Homo sapiens: one gene and its partner. The protein of the gene in region 2 purifies or fractionates together with the protein of the main gene of each other region. This does not show direct contact. Each region holds a gene or a part of one and is shown on either strand. Other genes may lie near its edges.

The links. Proteins that work in one complex are often made in the same cells at the same time.
Region 1: the proteins of TBPL1 (region 2) and TAF5 purify together in Homo sapiens (affinity purification with mass spectrometry, with the first as the bait; one large-scale study listed by BioGRID). This does not show direct contact.

The regions. Positions count from the first base shown.
Region 1 is NC_000010.11:103,387,271-103,389,565, reverse strand, and holds the end of TAF5 (transcription initiation factor TFIID subunit 5), read right to left. Parts: coding exon 2,214-2,295; intron 2,046-2,213; coding exon 1,868-2,045; intron 1,561-1,867; coding exon 1,343-1,560; 3' UTR 501-1,342; downstream 1-500. UniProt on the Homo sapiens protein: The TFIID basal transcription factor complex plays a major role in the initiation of RNA polymerase II (Pol II)-dependent transcription.
Region 2 is NC_000006.12:133,956,224-133,959,723, reverse strand, and holds part of TBPL1 (TATA box-binding protein-like 1), read right to left. Parts: intron 1-3,500. UniProt on the Homo sapiens protein: Part of a specialized transcription system that mediates the transcription of most ribosomal proteins through the 5'-TCT-3' motif which is a core promoter element at these genes. Seems to also mediate the transcription of NF1. Does not bind the TATA box.

The sequences.
Region 1 (2,295 bases), on a different chromosome or scaffold from region 2:
GGATCACTTGAGGTCAGGAGTTCGAGACCAGCCTGACCAACATGGTGAAACCCTGTCTCTACTAAAAAATACAAAATTAGCCGGGTGTGGTGGCACATGCCTGTAATCCCAGCTACTTGGGAGGCTGAGGCAGGGGAATCACTTGAACCTGGGACGCGGAGGTTGCAGTGAGCCGAGATTGTGCCATTGCACTCCAGCCTGGGCAACAAGAGCGAACTCTGTCTCAAAAAAAAAAAAGTATTAATCTGAGATACACTTTAATTTTTTTGGTGTTACATCTTTGACAATCTAATAAATTCGCATTCAGTTTCAGTGGGTTCATGTTACCTTAGTAATTCTTGAGTGTCTTAAGAGTAAAGCTGGCCACATTTGTATCTAAACTGTTTGCTTTGTTTATAGGATTTTAAACTGTCTACGGTTCTTAACCTCATCTGTTAAGTTCCCATGCCTGGAGAAGCTAATGCCAACTCATCATGTGATAATTCAATTTGTACAATAAATTATGAACCTGGAAAAGCTGGTTGTCTTTATTTACAAGATATCAAAAATATAAAAACTGTACAAAATGCAACAAAGGCAAAAACTGGCAGTGACTTGGTCTAAATCTTTTAGTTTCCCAAAGCAAGGCTCAGTACTGGAGGTAAGCAACTGAAATGTCTGTCTGACTTCAAGTGTACTAGGTTGTATGTAGCTGTTTTAGCTGAAGTAGAACATGGAAGCTAAATTTCTTCACCTGGTTTATCGAGTGTTTGGGTGCACTCAAAACTCAACAGGTATATAAATTCAGATGTCAGTGGGTGGCTGTACTTCCTCTAGATCTAAGAAAGGAACCCTACCTAGTTACATACATTCCATTAATCATGGGCCAAGAAAAAAAAAGTTAGTGGATCATTTAACATAGTTTTTGAGTGCCATACAGTAACTACGTTTTTACAGCAGAAACATACATGCTCATAGGATTCTTCAGCTAAAATTCAAGATGATAGTATATTTCTGAATTTGAATCTTGAAGCAGGATGAATTATTGAAATCAACTTTTTTTCTAAATGTAATAAATTAAAATAGCATTTGAACAGAAAATGCATAGTTTCCACACAATCCAAAGCACCATAAATGTCCCCTCCATGATCATAATACCTCTTATTCAACTAACGGAAATTAGTCAAATGTGGTTGCTATAGAAACGTGGAACTGTCCTGTTCAGATTTTTCCAAGCAGCATACTTCCAGATCCATATAGACAAAAACATTCTCTGTAGCTTAAATATTAATCACTGAGGTATTTGCTTTTAGTCTCCCTTTTTAAAAACAGTAGCTTCCAAAAGGTCTTTAATACCGATGGTTTATTGTGGACTATAAGCTCCTGCAGCTAGAACCAGGTTTCTTCGAGTAAAATGAAGGTGTACAACTGGTGTTGATTTGGTCATATATGTTCCCAACAATAACTCCTGTGAATTCTCAGGTAAATTTATATGCCCAGTGGCTGTAGTAAAGTCATCGGTCTCTAAATCTTCAAAGGCTTTGATAGCATCCCATAATCGAACTGTATTATCCATTGAACCTAAGGGGAAGTCAAAGGAAACCATTAGTTGCATCCATCATATTTACATTCGGACATTTTGTCCACTACACTATGTATTTACTGTACATTTTGGGTGAAAAATCTAAACTTGACCAATAACTCTATTCCTTCCTAAGGAGCATTATCAAGCAGTACTTTAACCTGAGAAGTGATTGATGTAGGATGACACTCTGGAATCATAGCTAAAGGGAAGTAAAACCTAAAACATAAGGACTTAGTATTGCAGTCGTCAACACTGTTTCCTCTTAACATAGCATTTATCGTAAAGCCATTAATAGTCATTTACCTGATGCCAAAATTTCACCATCTCTACTAAACCTAAGTGAACAGACTGTATCAGTGTGGCCTTTTAATTCTCCAACCATCAAACCATGTCCAATATCCCAAAGAAGCACTCTGCCATCTGTTGCTCCTGTAGCCAGGAATCTCCCATTGGGAGAAAATGTCAAGGAATGAATTGGTCCCTAGAAAAAAGTTCATAGAAAAGATCAAAGTATGTCTAGGAAAATAAGACAAAATTTTAAAGTTTTGTAGTAAGAATGGTATCTTTAAAATTTATGTGTCACTTGTTTAAAAAATATTTTTATTTTGAAAGCAACCTTGGATGCTGGAATAGTAAGAGTGTAAAATACCTTGTGTCCAGTGAAGATCCTTACACAGTTACCATTCAGGACGTCCCAGAGCCGCACAGTTCTGTCTGCAGAGCCCGTAGCA
Region 2 (3,500 bases):
ACCACCTGAGGTCAGAAGTTCAAGACCAGCCTGGTCAATGTGGTAAAACCCCATCTCTACTAAAAATACAAAAAAATGGCCAGGTGTGGTGGTGGGTGCCTGTAATCCCAGTTACTCGGGAGGCTGAGGCAGGAGAATTGCTTGAACCCAGAAGATGGAGGTTGCAGTGAGCCGAGATCGCGCCACTGCACTCCAGCCTGGGCGACAGAGTGAGACTCCATCTCCAAAACAAAACAAAAAGAAAGAAAGAAAGAAAGAACACTAGAGAAAAATTAACAATGTGTTAGACAGAACTTTGTCTCAAAACAGGCAAGTTTTATTGTGGACTATAGTACTGATACCATGGCAACCTGTTTTCCTAAAAATTTCCTAACACAGGCCAGGCATGGTGGCTCGTGCCCATTGCCCATAATCCCAGCACTCCGGGAGGCTGAGACAGGCAGATCACTTGAGGTCAGAAGTTCGAGGCTAGCCTGGCCAACATGGGGAAACCCTGCATCTACTAAAAATATAAAAATTAGCTAGGCGTGGTGGCGCATGCCTGTAATCCCAACTACTTGGGTGTCTGAGGCACAAGAATCACTTGAACCTGGGAAGCCGAAGTTGCAATGAGCTGAGATGCCACCACCGCACTCCAGTCTGGGTGACAGAGTGAGACTCTGTCTCAAACAAAAAAAAAATTTCCCAGCACAGTCCTCAGGGTATCTAAAACTAAAGGAAATATATATCTCTATCTATTTGGTGCAACAGTCATGATCATTTCCTCTCTTAAACAGGAAAACAAAAGTCACACCTCTAAATACAAGCATATTTGCCAACCTCCTTAGTGTGTGGAAGCTTATAAAAACCAGCTGAAACAAATAAACAAAACCAGCACAACATGGAAGAAGGAATTATAACACTTTACCCTGCACATTTAAAGCAAAATATGCTTTTAATAATATATTTTATATAAACCTCTATAGTATATATTTTATAAAAATGGATTTCAACTAAAAACTAAGACCTGGTTATTAGCCAGAATAGGAAAGAACAGTCTGCAATTCACTTTGTTTAGGCAGAAACATTTATTTTTAGTCAGCAGTTTCCAATGTCCACACAACTAAACTAAAACATTTGGACTTAACTTTTTAAAGTTAGCTATTATTTCAGCAGCAGCCTAAACAAAACTATAATTATCAAATTATTTTCCTGATTAGGTAGCTTCAGTATTTGTTTTTAGCTTTACCATAAACAAATAATTTTGCTATCCTACGAAGTCATTCTTGAGCCACCTGAATTACTGGGGCAGAGCAGCAATTTTAGCTACTTCTAAAATTACAAAAAAAAGCTACTATTAGAACATTCATAGTGGCACAGAAAGCTCACAACACATGGCTTTACACTGATACTAACAAGCTTCAAGTTTACCATCAACTAAGGTTATACAAGTAAAAAATAGTGCCTTCTAACGAAAGCCTAATTCTGTTAAATGAAACCATTGGGGTTTATTCCTTTTATTCAGAAGTATCATACAGCTAAACAAGTCAAGTCCACAGGGAAATAGTATTTCAATAGCTGCAACATGGTGCCAGCCCAGGCTTTGTCGGCCTTCCTTTTCCAAGAAACAGAGATGTCTCTCTTTACTTAGTCCATCTGCCATCAGTGATAACCAGATGCCTGTGTGACAATTCAAAACTTAAAAAAAGTACTTCCCCCTCCTAAAGCCTAACAGCAGAGATGAGTCCAATAGTCAGTGAACAGAAAGAAAGAAAGAATTTCAATGCTCTAGTAGAAAGCCTCCCAACCAAAGAAACAAAGCATCCAAGTGGTCCAACAGTTCACCTTTAAAATAATATCCAGTGCCACTGCTACTAGCACCTGCTAATACTTTTTAAAGCTTTTAACTAAAGTTCTAAGTGCTTTATGCTAATTCTCACAGCAACCCTGTAACGTAGTAGTAGTATTAACTCCCTAGTACAGATGAGGAAACTGGGGCTCAGGGCAGTGAGAAAGCTATTTAATATTTAAGGCCATGCCATTAATTAAAAGCACAGCCATGATGCTGAACACAGGCTGCCTGCATCCAGAGTCCGTACTCTTTAAGTGTTGTACCAATCCCAATCTCAAGAAAACGTAACTGATTCTGATCAAAACTCTTCTGTCTCACAGTGAAAATACTTGTAATTTATCAGGAGCGGGAACGTTAACACCTGATTCTTTGGAACCATTTTATTAATGGAAACAAATTTTTTTACTGCTTTTAAGTAAGACTTAAGTTCTCACCTAGTGAGTTAAAAAACAAAAACATACCATGGGCCAATGTCTACACACAGATGTCTATCTTGTGCTAAGCACAATTCAATGCTGAAATCATCCACATATGTCCTAAGAAAACTCTGTCCTTAACACACCGTCTGGTTTTCAGTATTTTTTATTAATGGATGGTGAAAGTAACCAACAGCCAAACTTCTGTGCTGTACTTTTTGGTGAAATTTTAAACATTTTCATTATTGACTCCCACACAAAGGCACATCTCCACTACCCCAGAAATCACCCTATTGAGTTTTTTTTTAAAAACATTTAATGGGATCCATAGCATGCTTCAACCCACAAAACCAGCCATTTAAACCAAATTCTCTATTTTATCACCCTTTAGTCACAGACAAGTAGAATTTCTGATGTGACCTGATTCCTTTCCACTAAAGACATACTTCCAGAATCTTGCTTTTTCACAACTACACAAATACACAAACTCCATCTGTCTTCTAAAGAAAAGATTGACTGGTTAATAATACAAAAATCAAATTTGTCTATGTAGCCTGGAAAAACCTCAGATACGTATACAGTCTCTCATCCTTTTGAAATTTCCCAAAGTGGTAGTCATGTGACAAGAGCAAATATCGTGTCTACTCAAGTGAAGGCAGTCCACCATTATCTTTATTGTTTGAATTGGTTAGAAGCTGTAATCATGCTTGAGAAAGTGTCACTGCTTGTAATTTGCATGCCCACAGCCAGAATACAAAGTTGAAATTTTAGGCATCAAGAATCAGATTTCAAAAAGGTTTCCTTCATCCACTAGCTAAGCTCTTGAAGTGAAATAAACAAACATGTATCTCCTTCTATTAACAACGTAATCTTCAAAATACACACACAGGGCAGGGACATACAATATGATGATGGCTACTCATACTCCTGATCCTCAAGAAACTTCTAGTTTAGCAGGCATGATGAAGTCCATTCACCAATAGTGACAGTACCAGGCAGTATGTAATAAAGAATTTAAAATTCATATTTGTGTCTGTCATGTTTTATTACACACATGTCATTTCTCTGCTACCTACAAGTGCACAAAAAGCACCTGAAGGGAAATACCTCTCTCATCCAGCTTTGCACACCTGACACGGCACCAGACATACAGAAGGCACAACAAAATGGATTTAAGTTTCAGGGAATCTTTATTAGTTCGAATGTCACAATACAGCTAAAATTTGAAAACACCAGAGATTTTAACTCAGAGA